Homo sapiens: one gene and its partners. The protein of the gene in region 6 purifies or fractionates together with the protein of the main gene of each other region. This does not show direct contact. Each region holds a gene or a part of one and is shown on either strand. Other genes may lie near its edges. The genes, in order: MTO1, DMXL2, PANK4, ESPL1, DMXL1, AGBL4 and C5orf34.

What was found.
Region 1: the proteins of AGBL4 (region 6) and MTO1 purify together in Homo sapiens (affinity purification with mass spectrometry; one large-scale study listed by BioGRID and IntAct). This does not show direct contact.
Region 2: the proteins of AGBL4 (region 6) and DMXL2 purify together in Homo sapiens (affinity purification with mass spectrometry; one large-scale study listed by BioGRID and IntAct). This does not show direct contact.
Region 3: the proteins of AGBL4 (region 6) and PANK4 purify together in Homo sapiens (affinity purification with mass spectrometry; one large-scale study listed by BioGRID and IntAct). This does not show direct contact.
Region 4: the proteins of AGBL4 (region 6) and ESPL1 purify together in Homo sapiens (affinity purification with mass spectrometry; one large-scale study listed by BioGRID and IntAct). This does not show direct contact.
Region 5: the proteins of AGBL4 (region 6) and DMXL1 purify together in Homo sapiens (affinity purification with mass spectrometry; one large-scale study listed by BioGRID and IntAct). This does not show direct contact.
Region 7: the proteins of AGBL4 (region 6) and C5orf34 purify together in Homo sapiens (affinity purification with mass spectrometry; one large-scale study listed by BioGRID and IntAct). This does not show direct contact.

What each region holds. Positions count from the first base shown.
Region 1 is NC_000006.12:73,506,737-73,509,736, forward strand, and holds the end of MTO1 (5-taurinomethyluridine-[tRNA] synthase subunit MTO1, mitochondrial), read left to right. Parts: 3' UTR 1-2,500; downstream 2,501-3,000. UniProt on the Homo sapiens protein: Component of the GTPBP3-MTO1 complex that catalyzes the 5-taurinomethyluridine (taum(5)U) modification at the 34th wobble position (U34) of mitochondrial tRNAs (mt-tRNAs), which plays a role in mt-tRNA decoding and mitochondrial translation.
Region 2 is NC_000015.10:51,479,772-51,483,271, forward strand, and holds part of DMXL2 (dmX-like protein 2), read right to left. Parts: intron 1,853-3,500; coding exon 771-1,852; intron 369-770; coding exon 177-368; intron 1-176. UniProt on the Homo sapiens protein: May serve as a scaffold protein for MADD and RAB3GA on synaptic vesicles. Plays a role in the brain as a key controller of neuronal and endocrine homeostatic processes.
Region 3 is NC_000001.11:2,513,097-2,516,596, reverse strand, and holds part of PANK4 (4'-phosphopantetheine phosphatase), read left to right. Parts: exon of another isoform or gene 1-519; intron 520-879; coding exon 880-1,035; intron 1,036-2,130; coding exon 2,131-2,243; intron 2,244-2,507; coding exon 2,508-2,595; intron 2,596-3,500. UniProt on the Homo sapiens protein: Phosphatase which shows a preference for 4'-phosphopantetheine and its oxidatively damaged forms (sulfonate or S-sulfonate), providing strong indirect evidence that the phosphatase activity pre-empts damage in the coenzyme A (CoA) pathway.
Region 4 is NC_000012.12:53,274,799-53,278,298, forward strand, and holds part of ESPL1 (separin), read left to right. Parts: intron 1-18; coding exon 19-212; intron 213-1,821; coding exon 1,822-2,061; intron 2,062-2,284; coding exon 2,285-2,429; intron 2,430-2,671; coding exon 2,672-2,810; intron 2,811-3,022; coding exon 3,023-3,162; intron 3,163-3,500. UniProt on the Homo sapiens protein: Caspase-like protease, which plays a central role in the chromosome segregation by cleaving the SCC1/RAD21 subunit of the cohesin complex at the onset of anaphase. During most of the cell cycle, it is inactivated by different mechanisms.
Region 5 is NC_000005.10:119,069,692-119,073,886, forward strand, and holds the start of DMXL1 (dmX-like protein 1), read left to right. Parts: upstream 1-1,395; 5' UTR 1,396-1,878; coding exon 1,879-1,965; intron 1,966-4,195.
Region 6 is NC_000001.11:48,585,955-48,589,454, forward strand, and holds part of AGBL4 (cytosolic carboxypeptidase 6), read right to left. Parts: intron 1,213-3,500; coding exon 1,050-1,212; intron 1-1,049. UniProt on the Homo sapiens protein: Metallocarboxypeptidase that mediates protein deglutamylation of tubulin and non-tubulin target proteins.
Region 7 is NC_000005.10:43,498,149-43,501,648, reverse strand, and holds part of C5orf34 (uncharacterized protein C5orf34), read left to right. Parts: intron 1-3,500.

The DNA of each region.
Region 1 (3,000 bases), on a different chromosome or scaffold from region 6:
GGAGTGCAATGGCGCAACATCAGGTCACTGCAAACTCTGCCTCCCGGGTTCAAGCGATTCTCTTGCCTCAGCCTCCTGAGTAGCTGGGATTACAGGCTTGTGCCACCACACCCGGCTAATTTTTGTATTTTTAGTAGAGACAGAGTTTCACCATGTTGGCCAGGCTAGTCTTGAACTCCTGACCTCAGGTGATCCACCCACCTTGGCTTCCCAAAGTGGGTGGATGACCTCTGGGATTACAGGCGTGCGCCACCGCGCTCGGTCTATATTCACCAATTTTAAGATGCACATCTTTCCATATTTTAGTATCTCTAAGTTGGAGTATGTCTTACAATTAATGGCATCTGACAGTTATAACTGGCAGCATTTGTGACTGAAAAACATCTTAGATGCAATGAAATACAGTGTGTGTGTTTGTATTGTGCTGCAATATAAAATGTATTTCAGGCCAGGTATGGTGGTTCACACCTGTAATCCCAGCACTTTGGAAGGCCAAAGTGGGAGGATCACTTGAGCCCAGGAGTTCAAGGCTGCAGTGAGCTCTGATTATACCACTGTACTCCAGCCTAGGCAACAGAGCAAGACCCAGTCTCTAAAAAATAAATGAAAATGTTTCTTATTGTGGATCACAGTCAAAAGTTTGAAAAAACACAATCTGTTTGAACAGCACTACTTTCTGACAGGAAAACCCCAACAGGTTAGGATCTGTGTATTCCTCAGAGTAAGAATTTTTCTAAAAAGTTTTTAAAAACTTAAAGTCTTACTGATCTCTTCCTATGCTCCAATTTTATAGATATAACTTAGCCTTGCGAGGTGATGTAATTAAAGTCTAACTTCAAGTTGCTGTTGAGCATAGATCTCAGGTCTTCTGACTTCACAACACCTTTCTGCCACTTTCAGTGGATTTTTCCCTCCTAGGGACCAGAGGTCCTCTACTGGATTAAAAGTTTCTCCATCCCGGCAGGGTGCGGTGGCTCACGCCTGTAATCCCAACACTTTGGGAGGCCAAGGCGGGCGGATCACGAGGTCAGGAAATAGAGACCATCCTGGCTAACATGGTGAAACCCCGTGTCTACTAAAAATACGAAAAATTAGCCGGGTGTGGTGGTGCGCGCCTGTAGTCCCAGCTACTCGGGAGGCTGAGGCAGGAGAATGGCGTGAAGCCAGGAGGCGGAGCTTGCAATGAGCCGAGATCGCGCCACTGCACTCTAGCCTGGGCGACAAAGCGAGACTCTGTCTCAAAAAAAAAAAAAAAAAAAAAAAATTCTCCATCCCTTTTGAACAATCTGGAAGTCTGTTTCTCTTAACCTTCAGTTCCCATTCCAATCCTTTGTAACCTATTTCAGGTTAAGCATTTATGGAGGTGCCATGCTTAATTAGCCATTATGGCACTCACTCTATTTCAAAGGTTATCCCAGAATTTGGAGGCTGTAGGGGAATTCAGAGTGTGAATTTCACTTGAACAGCACCCTCTGCAGACTTAAAATATTCCTCCTATATCTGAAGACAATAATAATTTCTTAGAATTTGCTAGGCTAAACAACTATTTTTTAGTCCAGTGGCTTGTAATTAAGTCATTTTTAGTCTTTAATTATGTTGGTTGCTTTTAGAATTCTCTTTTAGAGTTGGTCTACATCCTTTTAAAACATGGGCAATCCAAATTTATAACAGTAAATTAAGATACATAAAAAAAAACACTGGCTAAATTTAAAAGGAAACACTTCTAGAATATACTGTATTTTGACACAAGACCAGACTGTGCTATGTGTATGTGGTGTTTCAAGTAATTTAAGAAAACTGTTGGAATTTTCTGTATTTCCAGTTTCACAAGAAACAACCTCAAGGAGGGCAGTTTAACTGAAAATTCAGAGGTATTATAGCTCTGAAGAAAAATACTGATGAGCAGTTATACAAAATGAGAAATTGAGTTCTAAGAAATGCATCCCTAACTTCAACATAAAGATAGCTATGAGAAAACATTCTTTGTACCCAACCATAAATGAATAAAAATCACCTCATTTCTCATCAGATGTTTACTGGGTTGCTAGTTATATATAGAATCCTGCAAGAGGCTCAACAGGGAAGTCCAAAGAGTCAATCAAGAAGGTATGATAATGGCTAAAGATGGGGACTGTAGGTCAATGCTCCACGAGGTTCTTCTTTTGTTGCACCAATATAGCTGCACTGTTATACCCATATGGTTACAATCCAGGCCTCAGAAAATGTTGCAGATGCCCTCACCAGAAGGCTGAGAACCAGTTCCTCAGTTTGCATGCCTCCAGACAGCACTAGAAGTCAAACTCAAATTGCTTACATGGTAACTTGGTTTATCCCAACACCAACTAGGATATTCCCTCAATCACATGATTGTACTGAAAATATAACCAAGTTTTATTTATGTTTTTCATTTGGTATTAGCCATCTGGTATTTAACCTCTGAAAACCACACAATCTTCTATACGCTTTTTTCACTGGAATAAATGAAACTGCTTACTTTTGACTTAAGTCTATTTCGCTTTATACGAGCAATAACCCATATTTCGGACAATGTCTCAAAAGAGATTGTGTTAAAGGAAAATCCAGGCTGCATATTGTGCTTTTATCTGTTTTGAGTTAGCTTTAAATGTAAAGTTTGACAAAAGCAAAACTACATGAACTCTTTTAGGGAAACCATGACTGGCTAAAATAGAAACTTTTAATTCCTAATACAAAGATTATTTACTCCCACTTTGACCTTATAACTCTAAGTGGCAGAGCAAATTACTTTTGTGTGCCCAAAAATGGCAAGTAAATTTAAAGCTATCACCTTCTTCACCTTGCTTTTATTAAACATTTGATAAAATTTTCACAATTGCCTTGTGATTAAAATTATGAAATATGGCCTATGTTATAGTATTGTTAGGTAAATTTTCAACCACTTGGCCCACCATAATCAAGTAACAATTCTCTAGTGCAGTACCACAGACCTCTTAGATTTACTTTGTCTAGTACTTAAAGTAA
Region 2 (3,500 bases), on a different chromosome or scaffold from region 6:
AGAAGTAAGAACACTTACTTTTAAATTACATTCATTGGACTAATAGTCTTGAACTGATCATGAGTGAGAAAGGTAGCACTTTGAAATATTTCCCCTAAGTTCGAATTAAAAGACAGGTATAACATATTTACCTTCTCAGGGTGTATAATATCAAATGATCATAAACTTTACATTACCTTCACATCTTCAATACTGGGATGAGGTGGTGTTTTCATCTGAACAATAGTATAAAGTATATCATGGATGTGATTATTTAAGTACAATACAGGATTAGCTATGACTGTTTTTGTTGACGCAATACTTGCTGAAAGCAGAGGTAGGGTGGTAGGCAGTGGTAGTGGAGACTGGAGCTGCTTTACTGTAGTTTCCTGTGGGTGATAGTGAATTATTTTTTTCAAAGTAGTTTAAAAAATTTTATCAGTTCTCTGACAGAAATACTGGTGATAAACATTGTGTAAAGGGAATATGTTCGCTCACTCATTCTACACAAATTTATTGAGCACCCAGTATGTACCAGGTACTATGCTAGATGTAGATGGTATATAGATAAATATGACACAAGAATACTCTCAAGCTGTTAAGCCTACTCCTTATTATCAAAACTTCAGTCTAAGACACATAGAGTATAAATATCTGCCTCCTATAAAGAGAGGAGCTGAACATATTTAGATTAACTAGTAAAAAGTAGTAAAAGAGCTTTATAGCTATAACTGGAAGAGCTACTGAAATTACTGAAATAACCAAGATTGAAAAAAAAGTGATATTCACACCTGTTGTGATTCTTGTAGCAAAAATTTGAGTTCCATCCTTACTGAAGCCAAACCACCACCTTGGGCCCCATGAAGGCTACAGTAGCTGAGAAATACTCTCAGGAGATCTTGGTTTTTCTGCAACCACGACTTTCGTCTTTCTGCATGCTCTCGTTTGGCCTGCAATCTTCTTCTTTCTATTTGATGGCGCTCATAGGAACCAATATCTGGTTTGTCTACCATTTCTTCCTGATCCAGCAGATCACTCTCTACTTTGGAATATGTCTTACTGGAATACTCTTTAATAACTGATTCATGATTACATATCTCATGCAAGGCAGCAATTTCCTTTTCAAGCCAGTTATAGAGTTGAAATCTGAGTTTTCCTCCATCTACTTCATAACCTGTAGCCAATGTTCTTAATTCAGTCATAAGGATCTTTAAACAAGCTCTGAATTTTAGTTGTTCAGCAATCACATCAACTTCAGTATCACCTTCAGGATCATCCTCTTCCTGAGGTGTTAATAACATGTTAGGGTCTGAGGCCTTCTGATCTGATTGTTTATCTTTTTCCCTGGCATCTGTACTTTTCATCACTAAACCAACAGCATCGTCTTCCTCTTCATCTAAGGCACTGTCGTGATCTTCACCCCAATCAAGATTAAGAGGTTCCTCATCAACTTTTACTATTGGCTGACTCCAGTCATACTGTGATGAAGTTACATTTGACCATTCAATGCCAGAACTTCCATTGCCATCACTCAGAGCTTTTGAATGTGAAGGTACATCATCCATCCTGTGAGAAATGAAGTCAGGCTGATCTTTTTTTGCAGATAAGGCAGATGTTTTGGTTACTTTTGGAATTTTGGAGAGTACCTCCAAGGCTAAAACAGGGCATCCAACTTTAAAATGAGCATTTGCAGTGGTAAAGAATAATTTTCTTTCTATGAGGTTAATTTTATCAACAAAGTTCTTCTCAGTTTTGAGACCTAAGGTTGCCAAAGTTCCTTCAGGGGAGGCAAGATTTCTTCGAATGAGCAAAGGATGAGTTCGAAGGTAGTTATAAAAACTAAATGCCACCGGGTTACAAGACTTGATGATAACTATAGAAATCAAACAGATAAAATCACAAAGCATTGTGTTAATATGTATTTACATTACAAAACAATAAAATACGTCAGCATTTCTTCAAAAAAACAACATGTAAATATTAACCTACGATAGGTTACACTATGGCATATACAATCATTACAACTGTACAGCTGAAATAGAAAGAATTTCCCAATATGCTACGGAGTGATTCCCATCACTATAGAGTGATGTCCAGGATACACTAAGAAAAAGAAGATGCAGAAAGTACATGTAGTAAGCTACCTTTTATCTATCTAAGACAGTGAAGAGGAAATACAAATACACACTCATGCATATTGGCTTATCATTTTTAAATGGAAGACAAACACAAAAAATTTTAATTGATTCCTTAAAAGGGGAGAGCAAAACAGGGAAAAAAAGAGCTAGATTTCTCTGAAAATACACTGGTTTTATATATTTTATTTTAACACCATGTCAACATTTTACATAATTTTAAAATAAAACCAAATCTAAACCACAATTCACAAAAGGCAAAATTAAACAAATCAGTCTATCAAGTTGGTAGCATAATCACACAGAGATGAACTCTAAAAAGTGAGTTAAAAACAAGTAATTTGACTGTACATCCTTAGCAGAATGTACCATAAAACAAAAAAATTCTGCAAAAAAGCTTAAATTATGTTCAGAATCATGTTATTATAAAAATATCTATATTATTATTCTGAAACTTATATGCACATAGATAGCAAATAACTATGTTCATGCCATGAGAATCCAAACATTTCATTATAAGACACAAACTTAACATCTAAGAAGAAAGAACCCTATAATCTATATGTGCATGAGAAATAGCAGGGTAAACTCCTAAATTCTAAGGAAAAAAAATTTCCTAATTCCATTCATTGCAATAGTCTAGAAATTATGACAAGATTAGTACCAATGAGGATCCTGGTGCCCAAACTATAGTTTCTAAATATTATTCCCCACTAAAAGGAAGCAGAATGCTTTGGAGGAATGGTCATTTCCAGGTCTGGGGCAGGAAATGTACAAGATGACCCTTAAACATTTTGTAGTACCAGAAAGCAAGAAAACTATCAAGAAATAATGCCAGAAGAATTCAGAAACCTGAAGAAGTTCCCATTTGTGAAAGAACAATCTGAGCATCCATAAAAATAAACCAAGAGAATGATGCCAGCAAGATGGCTGCTAGACACACCTGGCATTCATCCTCCGAAAAGAAAGGACCAAGGCAATGAATAAACAGCTAAGATTTGACTGGAGTGTCAAAGGGAGAGCACTAGAGTGCAGCAGGGGAGTGGAGATGCACCTGTGGTGACTGCAAGTCTAGGAGAGCAGTGTGGAGGTACCCGGCCTCTGCAGCCCTATCTCCCCCACCCAGACTGGATCTGCCCACAGTCAGGAAGAACTTCTCATTGCAGAGGGGAAAAGGTAAACAGAAGATCCCCATCAGCCCTCATGGCCACCACAAACATCTACAGTCCTTACAACAGAAGAATCCCATAGTACTTGCAAGCCCTGTGTCCAGTTTGGAGAGACGTCAGAAGTTCACGCAACGGCACTGACCCAGATTAGGAGCATAAGGTGTGTGCCCTCCACCTACCGCCAGTGAGCCAAGCTGCTGCAGCACAAGCACTATCT
Region 3 (3,500 bases), about 46 Mb from region 6:
GTGGAGAAGGGCAGAGGGCCAGCATGTGACCTGTGGGGTAGCCACCGGAGGGTGGGAAGAGGCGGTCAGCTACACAGTTCCCCTCATAGCCCCTCTGGTCCCAGAGCAGCGGCTGCTGCGGTGAGCGTGCAGAGAGCCGAGTACTGATGTGTGCGTCGGCTCAGTTCAGTTCACTTCCTCCCGGCATAAGGTAGAAAAAGCCAGCAGGGCCCGTGAGCGCGCCTGTGCTGGGTGCAGGTGGCCCCGGGGTGCCCTGGGTGCATAATGGCCTGGCCCTGCCATAGTCCTTCATGGACAGAACGTGCTGGGAGGCCCGGCAGCCATGGAGGAAGAAGGGTGCATGTGGGGCGTGGGGACTCCCTGCCCGGCACGGAGTGGAACACTGCCTGGTGCTTAGTGAGGACAGAACCCCAAACCTCTGTGTGCAGACACGGCCACCTGGAGGACCAGAGGTGGGAACAGTGTGACTGCAGGGGTCACGGGAGGAGGTGAAACTGTAGGGGTGACAGGGAGGGGTGACTGCAGGGAGGTGGTGATGGGGGAGGGAGTTACTATAGGGATGGTGGAGGAGGGGTGATGGGAGGGTGACTGCAGCGGTGATTGGGGAGGTGTGGCTGCAGCGGGGAGGTGCTGGGGGCAGGAGGCGTGTGGTGGGAGCAGACGCAACCCCAGTGTCAAACCAGGGGGTAAGTCAAGGTATCCGGCTCAGGCCGCCGGGCAGCTGAGGGGGCCCAGTGGGGGTCTCGTCTGTGGCCCAGAGACGTGGCGGAAGAAGGCAGTACATCTCCCTTCTTAGAGAGAGAGTGGAAGCTTCTGAGTGTGGCTTGGGTCGTTCTGAACCATGGTGACGTTTCCACCCTGCCACTGCCTGTCTTCCAGTTTGACTTGCTGGAAATGGACCGGCTGGAGAGGCCACTGGTTGACCTGCCGCTCCTCCTGGACCCGCCCTCCTACGTGCCCGACACGGTGGACCTCACCGATGACGCTCTGGCCCGAAAATACTGGCTCACCTGCTTTGAGGAGGCCCTGGACGGGGTGAGGGCTCCGGGTGCCGTCTAGACGATTCCAAGGCCGCAGCCGGGTTAACCTTCCAAGGCTCCGGGGGCAAAGCCAAGGTGGCGAAGGGGGACAGGCCAGTGTTGTCCAGAAACCCCTTGATCTGCGTCTGAGTGAGGGGGCGATTTTGGTTTCTCAGGCAAAAATACCGCTCCTGGCCACCTGGTGGGTCAGTGAGGACGTGGCGTCTGCGAGGCACGTTGCTTCTAAGGGCAGCTGATAGTTCTGCTAGCTAGCACATTCCTTCAAAAAGCAATTTAGGAGACGTCTCTGCTCTTTTGAGGTGTGACTGAGGTGCGGGAGGCATTGTGGGACCCTGACTCTGGGGGTGGGGTGAGACTCAGCCCCAGCAAGCTCCCGGCGAGGCCACCTTGGGACTCCTGCGTCCCACCTTCTCCAAGGCTGGGCTGGTCCCGTGGAGCAAATGCCAGGCCCTGGGCCACGCTGCCCCTCAGGAGCTCAGCTCGGGGCCAGGGAGCCCCGGTAGCAACACGCACTCTTCACGAAGCCCTCGGAGAGGCCGGGTCGTGCCAGGGTTTGTCCTGAGGGAGGAGTCCCAGCCCTGCCCAGGACCCGGAGTGAGCTCTGAGTGCCCAGAGCCCCTCGTCCCCGGCACAGGATGGGGGCTCGAGTCTGAGGACGTGGGTCTTGGCCTCGGGTTTCCTGGGGGGTGAGGGACCAAGGTCACTCCTGCTCCTGCCTCCCAGGGCAACTGGGAGGGGCGAATGGCAAAGGGAAGCCTCGGGTGACCGTGAACTGTCACCGTCAGCCTTTCCTGTTCCAGTAGAAACTGCCCTGACCACAGCCCAGGCAGCCCCCACCCTGCCCGAGTCCCCCACAGCAGGCCCTGACCCTGCCCCGGGAAGCCCCCCATAGCTAGCCCCCACCCTGCCCCAAACAGCCCCCGACAGCCGGCTCCCACCCTGCACCAGGCCTCCTACAGCCGCCCCCACCCTGCCCCAGACAGTCCCCCACGGCCGACCCCCACCCTTCCCCGAGCCCCCTGCTGTCACGTGGGGATTCGCAAGCAGCAGGGCCAGCGCTTGACTAACCCCCTCCTTCTGTCGCTGGCAGGTAGTGAAGCGCGCAGTGGCGAGCCAGCCAGACTCTGTGGATGCAGCCGAGAGGGCGGAGAAGTTCCGGCAGAAGTACTGGAACAAGCTTCAGACCCTGAGGCAGCAGCCCTTGTAAGTGCCCAGCACCCCGGTGTGTGGCCACCTCTTCCATCCAGAGGGCCCCTGCACCTCTGAGAAAGTGCCGTGATGTTGGCATTCGGACCCCAGCTCGCTGGGGGTGGGTGTGGGCCCTGGCGGCACAGCCCCCTTGGACCCCGCCTCAAGCAGCGTTTGCACTGCCGGGCTCCTGAGGACGTCCGTGGCACAGCCGAGGATGGCAGACGGGCGGGTGTTCGGCCTGCCCTGCTCAGCGCCCTCTGCCGTGTCTGTCCCCAGCGCCTATGGGACCCTGACCGTGCGCAGCCTGCTGGACACCAGGGAGCACTGTCTGAACGAGTTCAACTTCCCGGATCCCTACTCCAAAGTAAGTGCAGTGTGCCCTGGCCTTCCGCTCGCTCTTGTCCCCGTCCCGCTGGCACCGCGTGTCCTGTCTCTGTCCCGCTGGCTCGGGGCATCCTGTCCTGTCTGAGGCCATGCAGGTTTGGTAGCGGCCCCAACTCCAGCCCTGGCACCACAATAGCCAGGGCCTCTGTTGGCAGCATCTGCTGAGGAGCTGTGTTACCCCCACAGATGCTGGGGCCACTTAGGGGTGGGGACTGCTGTGACTAGAGAAGAAGGGTGTGAACCCCAGTTTGGATGTGTTCCTGACAGACACAGGCTGCCTGCCTGCAGGAGCCAAGGGCCTCCCAGCTTCTGTGAGGGTGGGCGATTGTGGTTGGGGACTGCTTTCCCCTCATGGGGAGGGGCTGGAACCCTGGACCACCCTGGCTCCCTCCTAGGAGGCTGGACAGTGACCAGAGGCCTCCTATCCCGGCAACGTGCAGGGCCGTGCAAGGTGGGCCTTTCCGGGCGTCCGTTTTGCTTCCCCAAGTCTGGCGGCCAGAGCCCTCCTTGGCCCTTTCTGCCAGGAGGCAGCGGGCAGCAGCGGAGGCATGGACTCCTCCCACCTCTTCTGGGAAGGGCCAGCGCCATGCCTCCCTCCCCTCACACGCCGAGCCTTGTGACAGCGGAAGTCTGGGTGTCGAGGGTTTTGAGGCCAGGGCTGTGGGTACCTGTGGGGGCCGTGTCCTCCACTCTTGTCCTGCCCTTCACCCACTGCTCAGTCACATGGGGGCTGAAGTTGTCCTGGGCCTCGTCCTCAGAGCCCCGTGCAGCTGTGCGCTGGCCACTGTCCCGGACCGATAGGCTTGTGCCTGGTGGGGTCCCAGTTGGGCCTGAGTCTTCGATCCTGAGGGGCGTGGTATGGAACAGGCTGCGCCTGGCAGGTGT
Region 4 (3,500 bases), on a different chromosome or scaffold from region 6:
TTCCCTTTCTCTGGTCAGTTGCACAGGTGCTTCCGGCTACAAGTAGAGAGTTTGAAGAAACTGGGTAAACAGGCCCAGGGCTGCAAGATGGTGATTTTGTGGCTGGCAGCCCTGCAACCCTGTAGCCCTGAACACATGGCTGAGCCAGTCACTTTCTGGGTTCGGGTCAAGATGGATGCGGCCAGGGCTGGAGACAAGGAGCTACAGCTAAAGTGAGTTGAGGGCCAGACGCAGTGGCTCATGCTTGTAATCCCAGCACTTTGGGAAGCCGAGGCGGGTGGATCACTTGAGGTCAGGAGTTTGAGACCATGGCCAACATGGTGAAACCCCGTCTCTACTACAAATACAAAAATTAGCTGGGCATTGGCCGTGCACAGTGGCTCACACATGTAATCCCAGCACACATGTAATCCCAGCACTTTGGGAGGCCGAGGCGGGCAGATCATGAGGTCAGGAGATCGAGACCATCCTGGCTAATACGGTGAAACCCCATCTCTACTAAAAATACAAAAATTAGCTGGGCGTGGTGGCGGGTGCCTGTAGTCCCAGCTACTCGGGAGGCTGAGGCAGGAGAATGGCGTGAACCCGGGAGGCGGAGGTTGCAGTGAGCCGAGATCGTGCCACTGCACTCCAGCCTGGGTGACAGAGGGAGACTCCATCTCAAAAAAAAAGTGAGTTGGGGAGGGGGTCAACCATGTTTCTCCCATGGATAGGGTGGCTTTTGGTACTCATGGTCATGTCCTTTCATCTTTATGTCTGAAAAATACTAATTCCTTCATTCATTAGTTATTCATTGAGTGCCCACTGTATGCTAGCCACTGTGCTACTTGGGGGGTATAGTGGTGACAGTGGTCTTGCTTTCATGGAGCTTATATTCTACTTGGGGAGATATTTTTAAAAAGTACATTTTGCATTTTGTGTCTGTTCCTTTTTTTTTTTTTTTTTTTAATAGAGACAAGGTCTCACTATGTTGCCTAGGCTGGTCTTGAACTCCTGAGCTCAAGTGATCCTTCCACCTTGGCCTCCCAAAGTGCTAGGATTACAGGCATGAGCCAGTGCGCCCAGCCTTCACGTATGCTCTATGAAGACAATTAAACTGATTTGCTAAAAGAGGGAGCAACTTGAGGTGGGTTATTTAGGAAAACCCTTTTTGAAGAAGTGATAGATGAGACCTGAGGATGTGAAGGAATCTACTTTGTAAAGATCTCAGGGAGCCTGGGCAACAAAGCGAGACCTTGACTCTACTTAAAAAATATTAGCCGAATGTGGTGGCATGAACCTATAGTCTATTTACACTTGGTTAGGAGGCTGAAGTGGGAGGATCACATGAGCCTGGAAGATCAAGGCTGTAGTGAACCGTGATCACGCTATTGCACTCCAGCCTGGGCAACAGAGTGAGACTGTCTAAAAAAAAACAAACAAAAAACTCAGGGAAGAGAATTCCTTGCAGAGAGAGTAGTAAATACAAAGGTTGCAAAGTGGGAACAAACTTGGGACCATGCTTGAGAAAGCCGGCATGCTGGGGGTAGTAGAATAGCGGTATAGGATGGGGAACCATATGGAATGAAGGTGGTCAAAGTGGGAAGCGGCCAGATCACACAGGGCCTTATAGGCCATGGTCAGGGCTTTGGAAATGATTCCTAGTGGGAGCCCACTGCCGTTTGTTAAACAGAGGAGCAATGCAATCTGATTTAAATTTTTAAAGCCATGACTGGAAACCTACTGAGCAAGCCAAGGCTGGGGCTCCTCAGCATGGGAGCAGGTAGCAGAGGCTTTATGCCTCCTGGGTTCCACCCTGGTGCTGAGCATGCCCTCTCTCAGGACTCTGCGAGACAGCCTCAGTGGCTGGGACCCGGAGACCCTGGCCCTCCTGCTGAGGGAGGAGCTGCAGGCCTACAAGGCGGTGCGGGCCGACACTGGACAGGAACGCTTCAACATCATCTGTGACCTCCTGGAGCTGAGCCCCGAGGAGACACCAGCCGGGGCCTGGGCACGAGCCACCCACCTGGTAGAACTGGCTCAGGTGCTCTGCTACCACGACTTTACGCAGCAGACCAACTGGTAAGGAGTAGTAGCTGCAGAGGCCACTCTTGCTCCTTGCCCTAGGTCCTCTCACCCTCTTGAGAACCAGTTTCCCTCTCCACAGCCCTGAGCTCTCCCTTCATCTTGTGGCCATGGGAGCACATGCAAAGGGCGAGGCCAGCTGTTCTGCAGCTAGCCCTTCCCAGGGCGCTATGGCAGATACTCATAGTAGGCCCAGCTTAAGCACATCTTCTCCCTGCAGCTCTGCTCTGGATGCTATCCGGGAAGCCCTGCAGCTTCTGGACTCTGTGAGGCCTGAGGCCCAGGCCAGAGATCAGCTTCTGGACGATAAAGCACAGGCCTTGCTGTGGCTTTACATCTGTACTCTGGAAGCCAAAATGCAGGAAGTGAGTGTGGCTGCTGTGGGGCTCACCAGAACTGGGTGTAGGAATTACTGTCCCTGGGCCCCCAACAAGTTGGTATCAGCCCTTTTTTTTGTTCGTTATTTTTAGAGATGGGGTCTCTCTGTTGCCCAGGCTGGTCTTGAACTCCTGGGCTCCAACAATCCTCCCACCTCAGCCTGCCGAGTAGCCAGGACGATAGGCCCACACCACTGTGCCCTGTTTTATACCCCGATCTTCCCATCCAGGGTATCGAGCGGGATCGGAGAGCCCAGGCCCCTGGTAACTTGGAGGAATTTGAAGTCAATGACCTGAACTATGAAGATAAACTCCAGGAAGATCGTTTCCTATACAGTAACATTGCCTTCAACCTGGCTGCAGATGCTGGTGAGGGGTAAATGGAGTGTGGCATGGGCATCTCCATGGCTTCCTAAGAGTGGAACAGGGACCCCTGGTGAGGGAAACCCTGACCTTGTAGGGTAGGAGGTTGTGGAAGCAGTGGGAGGTTGGCGTAAAGGGCAGAGGATGTTATGGAGGAAGGGAAGTTCTCTCCAGATGGCCCATGCTGAGACAGCAGTCATTTTCTTCTGGCTTAACAGCTCAGTCCAAATGCCTGGACCAAGCCCTGGCCCTGTGGAAGGAGCTGCTTACAAAGGGGCAGGCCCCAGCTGTACGGTGTCTCCAGCAGACAGCAGCCTCACTGCAGATCCTAGCAGCCCTCTACCAGCTGGTGGCAAAGGTAATGGGGTGGGGCATTGAGGGGGACCCATATAAACAAGGACTAGACCAGAAACAGCTCCCTCGCCTTCTTTGGCCTGTGATCCTCCTGAGAAGCCATGAAAGCCAGTGATGGAAGCGCAGGGCTGTATCACCAGTCTTATTTTAAATCCAAGCTCCCTCATTCATTAGTGTATGGCCTTGGGCAAGTTGCTTAACCTAAGCCCAAGTTTCCTTATCTCTAAAATAGGGGCCATGCTACTGCCTCGTGGCGTTATTATTCAGTGCAGCAGTGCATGGAAGAGGTATTGTGTAAATGGTATGCTCAAATGTTAGCTTTAGTCTGGGCAACACGGCGAA
Region 5 (4,195 bases), on a different chromosome or scaffold from region 6:
GCTGGGATTACAGGCGCGTGCCACCATGCCAGGCTAATTTTTTAATTTTTAGTAGAAACTGGGTTTCACAATGTTAGCCAGGCTGGTCTCGAACTCCCAACCTCAGGTGATCCCCCCGCCCCCACCTCGACTTACCAAAGTGCTGGGATTACAGGCGTGAGCCATCGTGCCTGGCCTATTGGAGAGTTTTGAGGGTTGTTTGTTTTGAGACGGGATCTCACTCTGTCACCCAGGCTGGAGTGCAACGGGGGTCTTGGCTCACTACAACCTCTGCCTCCCGGGTTCAAGTGATTCTCCTGCCTCAACCTCCCGAGTAGCTGGGATTACAGGTGGGAGCCACCACGCCCGGCTAATTTTTGTATTTTTAGTAGAGAAGGGGGTTTCACTATGTTGGCCAGGCTGGTCTCGAACTCCTGACCTCGTGATTCACCCTCCTCGGCCTCCCAAAGTTCTGGAATAATAGGCGTGAGTCACCGTGCCTGGCCTATTTGGAGAGTTTCTATACACATTCATGCAACATTTACAGAACACCCTGAATGGGTGGGACTGGTGCGGTGCTAGACATTAAGGACAGACTTGTGTCCTGTTCCTCTGTATTCCAAAGAGGCTTACGGTATACAGGGGGAGACATATAAACAGATGTTTGTCAATTATAATACAAAACTTGTGTCAAAATACAATGAGAGTTGAATCTCAGTTTGTAGCTGTGACTCTGATCATTCTGGAATTCCTAGGTTCTTTTCCAAAACAAACGCTCAATGCAGGGCTGGTGTGTTGTTATTACCAGCACTATTTCAAATCACGTGTTAAGATAACTTAGGCTAAGAAAATACCACTTTCCTACTTGTCAAGTGTTCGAGCCTTTCAAAAACCATCCCGTTTAGGGACTTGGAAACACGCGCAAGGCTGGAGAAACCATTAAGCTGCTAACGTAGACGTTTCAAGGGTCACATTTACTCAAGAGACACTCAGGTCGCCCGGGGGAGCGGTGCATATTGGGACTTGTAGTCCTACCAGAACCGAGGAAACTGCAACTCCCTTTAGGATGCACTTCTCCCCTTTAAATTTTCTGGCCCAACAGTTAGATGACGCCCTAACCTAAAGCACAACTTACCACATCTCACTCATTCTGGGTTCATCAGGCTTCTGCCAGGCTTATCAGGTTCAAGCTCAAACGCACGGCGTTCTCCTGTAGAAGCCTCAAAGAGATTGGCTTATTCTCGGTGGTGGGCGGAGCCCTAGGTGGACCGGGGGTCGGGATTGGCCAGTTTCTGACTAGAAGAGGCGTTTTTATGTTCACTTGCTGATACGCACGCTGTGGTAAAAAAGTGAATTCTTTACCACAGTAGCAGCTGCCCCGAGCGAAGTCTCGCGATATTTCGGCCGCAGGGATCCAGAGGCGCGTAGTGAGTGGCGGAGGACTGTGGGGGTGGCGGGCACCGGAGCCGGGAAGGGACAGGTCAGGCGGGGAGTGCGAGCGCGTACTGCTTGCGCCACTCGGGCTGGGTCAGGAGCGGCTGCCCGAGGTCCAGAGGAAGTGTGTGGACAGCGCGGCCTTCCTGGCCGGTGAGTCGGCCCCGGGTCGTGGCCGGTGAGGGGACCCTGAGCTTCACCTGGGCTAGCGCGGGGAGTGACAGGTGCGCGAAGGAGCGCGGCGCTCCGCCCTCTCGCCGACCCGCCCCCTCCGGGCCTCGCCCTCCGGGGCTCGGGATGAGTCGCGGGCCCCAGCTGAGCGGCTCCGGCTCCAGGCGCCTGTCGCTGCTTCTGCCGTCGCCACCGAAGAGCGGCCGCCGCCCCTGAGGGAAGGAGGGAGGGAAGCAGCCGCTGACCCGTGGCATGAGCTGGATGCGGTGTCCGTTGCAGGACTAGGGCGCCGACATGAACCTGCACCAGGTGCTGACCGGGGCTGTGAACCCTGGCGACCACTGCTTCTCCGTGGGCAGCATTGGCGACCAGCGCTTCACGGTGAGTGAGGGAGGCCCTCGCGTCGCCCGTGGCCCGGCCTTTGCCCGTCATTCTGGGCCGAGCTTGGCCCAGAACGACGGGCAGAGGCGCGAGGTCTTGTCTCCCCAGGGGGGTCCTTACCACCCAGAACCCAGCAGACCTGGCCCTTGAGAACTAAGGAAGCAAAACCATGTCGGTCAGTGAGGTACTGTATGGAGCCTGAACTCAAGTTAGAATATTTTGTAGGATTTTTAAAGTTTTTGGTCTGTCTGCCTTGGGCCAGGGTGCTTTGCCAAAGTCGTTTGTTCAAAAATCTTTGTTGAGTAACGAGTTGGGGGCTTTTTTATACCATTCTATAGGTTCAAATTGTCAAATTTAGGAATAGTGGAGATTGGTTTCATTTTGTATTCTAAGTTAAGGTCAAGTATCTTTGTAGTTAAAAAGTGGGTGTCTCAAAACAATTACCAATTGTTTGCCATCAACAACTAGCCTTGAGAACAGTGTTTTTCATTTATTTTCTTTTCTAATTCCCTGAGAAATAACTTCGGAAAGAAAAAAAAGCCTTTTCATTTTTAAAAATATTTCTTGGATATTTTACAATAACCTGGTAATCCCAGGTTAAGGTTGCTTAACTTGCTTTTCATTGGTCACATATTGACAAGAAGAGGGCACCAAATTTCGGGCTACTTGTCAGTATAGTGGCATTTTTCTACCTTAACTATAGGTTTTTTTTTAATAACAATTTCAAAATATAAGTCAGTAATTGCACATGATACTTTTATCTACATAAATTTATAATGCTAATGATTTTTGCTACAATTTGTGTAGATACCTCTTTAGTTGTGATTAAAAGTAAAACTTGTCACTGCCTGGGAATACTAAGTGCTGTAGGCTTTTTTCTTTAAAAAAAATAAAAGTAAAACTTAATTTTGTATAAGTGACACAAAGTAAACAACGTAACCAATGCCCCAGGTTTAGGAGTGTTAAATTTCTAATCTTTTTCTCTGCTTTTAATTTTTCTGTGGTCTTTGTTGGTCAGAATAAATAATACTCAGCATTTAAAATGGTGGAGGCATTTAATGCCTGAATTGTACTTTTAGAATTGTGCCAAGAAGCATTTTGTTTTCAAATAGAGACTGTACCTCCCCTTTAGATTGACTCATACACATCTTAATTATCGGGATTCCAATTCTAAATGTTTGCCCAGCCTGAATACTTGGGAAAAGAGTGAGCTCTGAGGGTCCCAGTGAGCAACTATAGTTTCCTTACACCTGGGCATTGCTCTCTGCTCTTGCTGCTTGAGAGGAAAGTAAACATCATCCTTAGAAGGTTTTCCTAGTGGGAAATTATAGGATAATATTGTTGCATTCTCTGTCATTTCCTAAATTTATATGAGTGCTTTCTCCAGTGTAAATTCTAAGAACTTTTGCTTTTTAAAAACTTTTGAAATGAGGTCTCCCTCTGTCACCTAGGCTGGAGTGCAGTGGCGGGATCACAGCTCACTGCAGCCTCGACCTCCCCGGCACAAGCCGTCCTTCCACCTTAGGCTCCTGAGGAGCTAGGACTACAGATTCTAATCACCACGGCTGGCTAAGTTTTCTATTTTTTGTAGAGAGGGGTCTCCTTATGTTGCCCAGGCTGGTCTTGACTTCCTGGGCTCAAGTGATCCTCCCACTTCAGCCTCCCAAAATGCTAGGATTAGAGGCGTGAGCCACCATGCCCAGCCCTAAGAATTTTTTCTAAGAAGGCATTCACAATCTATGTAAGCAGTGGTGTGAACTTCAAAGCATATGCAGTATGATGGCCTATTTATATACCTGGATGCATTCCTCTATAAAACCTTGGTGAATGTCTGTGTATTGTTTTTAAGGAGAGATCAGTTAATGTGCCGAGGAGGATTAGATAGATGGTCATCCTGTACCATCATGTAGCTTGTTGCTCAGTTCTGCTGAATTTTAAAGTTCATTTCCATTGAGTAGGATTTAATCTCCCACCAAGCCTACTGCAGATTTCTTCCAGGTCTCTGGAAGCATTCAGTAAATAAACTAAAAATAAATTTTTAAGTATAAAGAGAGTTCAGCTCTCTTTAGTTTTGATGGAATTTTAAGGATTTAACAGTCATGGTTTTCCTTTGCAGCCTGTTCATCCTTGACTCTTTAAGTTGCTTACGCTCATTATCCTGGACACTTATATACACCTTAAATTTTTCTCTCTTGAAATCGCCCTTTTTTCTTCTCTCATGTTAAAAGGC
Region 6 (3,500 bases):
CTTCTACCTCCAGGGAGGGGGAATTTGCAGAAATACAGAGTTCATTTCATCTAAAGTTCCTTCCTCCTCCCTCCACTTCTCTGAGAAAACTAAGTGTTAGGAAAGGAGACATAGATCAACCCGAAAACAAAGGATCAAGGAAAGCAGAATCTGCCACGATCTGTTACAGCTCTGATGCAGTGACCTTGATATTAAAATCAACACTCGGGAAACTAGAGTTACTACCTAATCCTTAAAAAATTAGGCAAACTAGAAAATAACTTCTAATTTCATCATGGAAGGCTTTGGAGTTTTCAGAGAAATTTTATGAAGAAACTAAGAGGAAAAGGAATTTGTCAAAGGAAATGCAAAGGCAGAGAGAAAGATGCACAGAGGATGAGAGGGGAAAGACAAGGAAGACAGAAGACAGGCAAAGAGGAGAGAAAGAAAAGGAGGATGGGATGAGAGAGAGGACAGAAAGGAGGGGAGGAGGGGGAAAAAGAAGTAAGGAAAGAGAAGCACAGGACAGGTGAGGAGGGAGGAGGAGGGCATAGAAGGAGAGGGAACAAGGGTGAGAAAAGTAAGTAGAAGGGGAAATAGTGAGTAGAGGGAAGAGAAAGTGGGAGAGGATAGGTTAGACAAAAGATGAAAAGAGAACATATGTTTTTGTATGTTCAGGGTTAGAAGGAGTCAAGATCATCAAGCTCTTCCTCAGCAACCCTGGGGATGGTCATCCAGCCTGTGGACTTGCATAGCTTAGATGGCAGGAGACTCACTGCATCATGAGAGAAGAGAGGGGAGAGAGATGGAAGCAGAGTAAGATATGGGCAGGCCATGGGTCCGGCTGGCCTGGGAAAGATTTGGAGCATGGCAATTGGGGTAGGAGTATCATACTAAGGGCTGAGGCAAACTGGACAATCCAAAGACGCCACCAGAAGAAGAAGCACCTCCATCCTCACCTGAGAGTCTCAGCCCTTACCTGAGCTGGGGGCCTAATTCCTGACCTGTCAGACTTGGATACTCTCGGCTGGATGAGGGCTGGCCCAAGGCTGGGTGGGGACTAAGGATACAGGCTTCTTCAGTGTAGGGCACAGCAGCCGTGGTGCCACTGATGATGTAGCTGTAGAAGGAGACCTCTAGGGTGTAGCAATAGGAAGTGTGGTCCAGGAGTCCACCGAGGAAGCGACGGCCAGTTCCTGCTTTCACAGCGTCCCGGTTAAAGGATGTGCTGGACTGTGAAAGACAGAGTAGGGAGGAGAGAATCACGGCACCTGCTGCAAATTGGATTGTGGGCAAATTTTACAACACCTCTGGGTCTCAGCTTCACTGTCTGAAGAGTGGGATATTAGCCCCTCATCACATGATTATTATAAGGACTGATTAAATAAACATAATTAATGACAGAAGCAAGCAGAGTTCTTGAGGTGCAGTAACTGCCACTCAACGAATATTTGTGGAAAAATGAATGGAGAGAGAGGGAGCAGGGAAAAGCAGACAGAGGAAAAAGAAGCAACTACATTTTGATGATAATCAGAACTAACATTTGGAGCCTGGCATGGTGGTGTGCACCTGTAGTCCCAGCTACTTGGGAGGCTGAGGTGGAAGGATTGCTTGAGCCTAGGAGTGTGAGTTCAGCCTAGGCAACATAGTGAGACCATGTCTCTATTCTTTTTATTATTATTATTTTATTTATTTTATTTTATTTTATTTTATTTTATTTATTTTTTGAGATGAAGTCTCGCTCTGTCACCCAGGCTGGAGTACAGTGGCGCGATCTTGGCTCACTGCAAGCTCCGTCTCCCTGGTTCATGCCATTCTCCTGCCTCAGCCTCCTGAGTAGCTGGGACTACAGGTGCCCACCACCACGACTGGCTAATTTTTTGTATTTTTAGCAGAGACAGGGTTTCACTGTGTTAGCCAGGATGGTCTCGATCTCCTGACCTCGTGATCCGCCTGCCTCAGCCTCCCAAAGTGCTGGGATGTCTCTATTCTTTAAAAAGAAAAAAAGTAAAACAAAACAAAAACAAAAATAAAACCCTAAAATTTGGGCAGTGCTTTCAATTGTATGATATTGTTTCCCATGCAGTATCTCATTTAGGCTTCAAAATAACCACTTGAAGTAGGTGTTCACATTTTATCTCTCTATAGATGAGGAAACTGAGGTTTCCTCTCTATAGATGAGGAATATGAGATTGCTCATAGAGGTGGAGCAAGTAAGTGATACAGCACAAATCTGAATCCAGAACTAAGTGACTCCAGACAACCAAAGAATCTACTTCCTTTAGGGATAGCTGATTCATGTCCAGAATCACTAGAGCATAGGGATCATGGCTGCTTCTTTACTAAGATGTTGACAGCACCCATCACAGTGGATAGAGAAATGAACAAGCATGTCACTCTCAAGTCCTCTGTTCAAAGACATGCTCTACTACCCACTGAGTACATGATGTCAGGCAAGTTGACTTACTTGTCTTAGTCTCAGTTTCCTCATTTGTAACTTGGAGGTGAAAATAATATCTCTTTCACAGAGTTGTGAGGGTCAGTTCACTTGGGGTTAGAAGGGCATTCTATGCTAACCCCTGGAAATTTAAGCAAATGAACAGACCATGGTTTTAATAAGAGAATACATGTCTTATTCGGCAGGAGATAAAGGAAGAAGGAAAAGAGATAAAGTAAACACCAATACAAGAAAGGCACAGAAAGACTGTGAAAGAAACAGAGAAGTGTGTGTGTGTGTGTGTGTGTGTGTGTCTATTTTAAGGTAAAGGAAAAATCAGAAAATCATAGAATGTCAGATCTGAAAGACCTTTGAAATCCATGTAGTAAACTCCAACTCTCCTGTTTTAGAGTTGGGCATTGAGGATCAGAGAAGAGAAGAGAAGAGAAGAGAAGAGAAGAGAAGAGAAGAGAAGAGAAGAGAAGAGAAGGGAAGAGAAGAGACAGCAATTGGACCAGGACAGATGACCTTGACTCCCACCCTTAAGGAGGCTGCAATGCAGAAACATCAGGCAAGCCCAGAAATAAGGCTGTCAGACTGTGCCCCTTTTGTAGTCCCTGGAAACTTCACCCACATGAGGAGGGTCTCTGAGGCCTATGACCCAGCCTTCCAGGGAACTTGGACTAAGGAGGCCACATTCTTTTCTGAAATTGCAGTGGTCTCAAATAGACAGGGCCATCCTATAGAGATTCTTACAGAAAAAGGTATGGCTGTTTCTGCCCCACAGCTGCAAATGGGGAGCTACCTGCTTTGATTCTATCATTAAATGCTGGGTGACCTTATGCTGAATACTCATCTTTTCTGGGGCCACTCTTTACTCTCAGGTGTAAAGAGGGGACTGGACTAAATAATCTGCCAATTCCTTTCCTGGTTTGACATTCAAAAGTTCTGGGATTCAGAGTGCATCTTAACACGCAGAGAAATTCATCATCTCCACTAATGTCCTGGCTTGAAGCAATGGGCAGGTGAGTTTTCAGCTCATCAACTTCAAAAATTGCTATGACCTTTGTGGGCCTCTGCCCCT
Region 7 (3,500 bases), on a different chromosome or scaffold from region 6:
ATACAAAAGTAGACAAATATAAGGGACCCCTATGTACCCATCACCCATCTTGTTCATTTATACTTCCTGCTTCTCCCTCCACTCCCTGTTTATTTTTAAGTAAATCCCAACCAAATATTGTTTTCTTCATAAATACTTCAGTATATATTGGAACAGATTCCCAACTGGGGCCTATTTCTAGGAAAATATTTAGTAAATACATATTAATTGAACAGTAACTCTTTGGCAGGCATTCTGGTAAGCACTGACAAGGATGAAGATGAAGAAGAGTTCCTGCCCTCAAGAGTTCACAGTCTTGTGTTCAGTTAGACAGGCAAACAAGCAAATGAGATACAAGCATGCCCAGTAACATGTATACGTATATATGTGTGTATGTGTGTTTATATAGTACATCAGACAATCAAGTGAGCAAGCAAATAGAGTAGGTATGCATAGTCATATTGCTGACTGCTGTATATCAGAGGGTGTGCAAAATTGCAAGATAAAAGGAGTGTGTCTTCCTGGAGCTTCAATTTTACTCAAAGCTGTTGCGGGAGGGGGTGATAATTTTTATACTAAAGCAAATATATCATGGAGTAGAAGCATGAGCTTTTGGGTTAAAACGCATTTGTGGTGGACTGCCTTGGGCTTCACTCTCCAACCTTTGTGTGCAACACCTTCACCTTTCTCTGTCTGTTTTAGTGCAAAGGTTTAGAAACAATTGACCCTCTTTTGGGGATAAAGTTGTTTGCTCCTTACTTTAACCCAGACTCCAAAATAAATTTCAGATGAATTAAAGAGCTAAATGTAAGAAACCAAACTTTATAAGTGTTAGAAGAAAATATAGAAGAACAATGTTTAAAATCTCTGGGTAAAGGAGGCCTTGTTAAGTAGAATACAGAAAACCAGAAGGCATAAAAGAAAAGTTTGACAAGCTTGAAATCTTCAAACTTACGTTAAATTATAAATATTTAGGCTGGGCACAGTGGCTTATGCCTGTAATCACAGCACTTTGGGAGGCCAAGGCTGGTGGATCACATGAGGCCAGGAGTTCGAGACAAGCCCAGCCAACATGGCAAAACCTCGTCTCTACTGAAAATACAAAAATTAGCCAGGCATGGTGGTGCTTGTGTGTAATCCCAGCTACTTGGGAGACTGAGGCATGAGAATCGCTTGAACCTGGGAGGTGGAGGTTGCAGTGAGCCAAGATCACACCACTGCACACCAGTCTAGGAGACAGAGCAAGACTCTGTCTCAAAAAAATTTTTTTAATTAAAAGAAAATTTTAGAATTTCTGTTAAAAAGATAAGCAAAAGCCCAGAAGATATTCCACACTATAAATCAGTAATAGACCAAAAAACCAAAATACCCTAATAGAAAAATGGGCAAAGGGTAAAAATGGATTTAGCCATAGAAAAGATAATGTAAATTAAAAAGTCATAATATTTGAAAACATATTCAACTTTACTACTTGCATCAGGGAAATGCAAATTAAAATATCAATGACATAACATTTTTCCCTTACCAAATTGCCAATAACTAAAAAGACTGATGACATCTGCTGGGAAGGGTGTGGGAAAAGTGGTGCTTTCATAGTGTTGGTTGAAGTGTTAATTGGTTTGGCTTTCTTAAAGGACAATTTGATAACATCAAATGAAATTGATGAGAAATTCTGCTTCTCAGTATCTAGCCTAGAGAAATATTTGCACGTGTTCAAAGAAGCACGGCCAAGGGTGTGTTTTGTGGCATTATTTGTAGCAGCAAAAAATCAGAAGCAACCTAAATAAATGTTCATTAATAGGGAAATGGTGAAATAAGTTGTAATTATCAAATTATGGGAATGGTGTACAGTAGTTGAAAAGAATGAGGTAGATGTCGATGCATACAGTAATAGATTCTGGAAGATCTCAAAGATCGGGTTGTTGAGCGAATAAAGAAACTTGCGTTAGAACACGTACAATGATATCTTTTGTGTAAAGAACAAAAAATAAACCCATACCTATATAGTACTTTCTGTAATACACATGCACAAGCACAAGTAAGGATCCTGGGCAAATACACACTGAAGTAGCTATGTTTGGGAAAGAGTGTGGGATTTTGTGAGGGAGGAGAAGTCTGAGAGGACTCAATTTTCATACTTTTTGAACTTTTTTTAACAAAAACTTAATGTATTATTTATTGTATAATTAAAAATTGAAATAGGAAAGATTGACAAGTACTCACAGTGTAAGTACTTCCATAGAGATAAGAACTTGGTGCTTTGGGACCACATAAGAAAGGGCACCAGACCCAGTGTTTGAGGCTCCAGAAACAACTCCTGAAGGAAAACTTGGCTAAGCTAGGATCTATAATTCCAAAGGAGGAGTTGTACAAAAGACAGATGGAGGTAGGAGGAGCATATAGCTAAGGGAACAATTTACTTTCTCAATTGTTTGCATGGCTGGCTTCTTGTCACTCAGATTTCTATCTAAATGTCATCTCCTCACAGACGCTTTTCCTGACTATTCAAATTAAAGAAGCTACCCAAGACACTCCCTATCATGACATCCTCATGTTTTTTCTTCAAAGCACTGAATATTGGGTGACATTTTCTTAATGATGTATGTTCTTTATCAGCTACACTAGATTTAAGCCCTATCTTATTCAACACATTATTATTGCTGCTTCTTAGCACAGTTTATAAATGGCACCTAACTGGACACAAGAGCCTGGGGCGAGTGTGGAGTGTTGAAGGAAGTGAAAATGTTGTAGTTTGGTAGGCCAAAACATAGATGGGATGCTGGGGGAAATGTCCAGAGAAGAAGCCAGATCACTAAGATGGCCAGCTCACAACTGGAGCATGAGTAACCTCACTGCATTTGGGGAACCATTGAATGATTTCAAGTAGGGAAGTGACATCAGATTTTTGTTAGATTATTTCAGAGGAAGATGAACTGGGTGGGGAAGAGGTAAAACTTGAAGCTGTAGAACCAGTCAGAAGACATGTATAGTAGTTCAAGTGAAGGCCAGGCAGTGGTAGGAAAAATGAGAAGGAATATTAAGGAGACAGAATTGATTGCTGACTGGACGCTGAGGATGAGGAAGGAGTTGAAAGGGATGCCAAATTATTAATCAATGAATGGTGGTGCCCGGTACTGTGTGAAACCAAAATTTTTATCAAATCTAAATTTTTTTGATGATGGCTTTTTTTTCTTTTGCGCCTACCATGAGATGTCAATTAAGGATTTGAGATTATTAAAATTCAACTATATCTCAACCCCACCTGCCTAATAGATTATAAGACACTCTTAATTGTAAGATGGATCCAGATTTCAGAGAGGTTAAATTGTGAAAAATGAGCATTTTAGAGTTGATGAAATAGGGTCTTGGAAATAAGAACCCAGAGGGAACTCAATATCCAGTAGAGAAAGACATAAATAATTAAAATATGGTATTTTGAGTGCTTCCCATGTGCTAAGCACTGTGCTAATAAATGATAATGATACAGACATGAGCAAAACAGACACAGCCCCTTCCTTCAT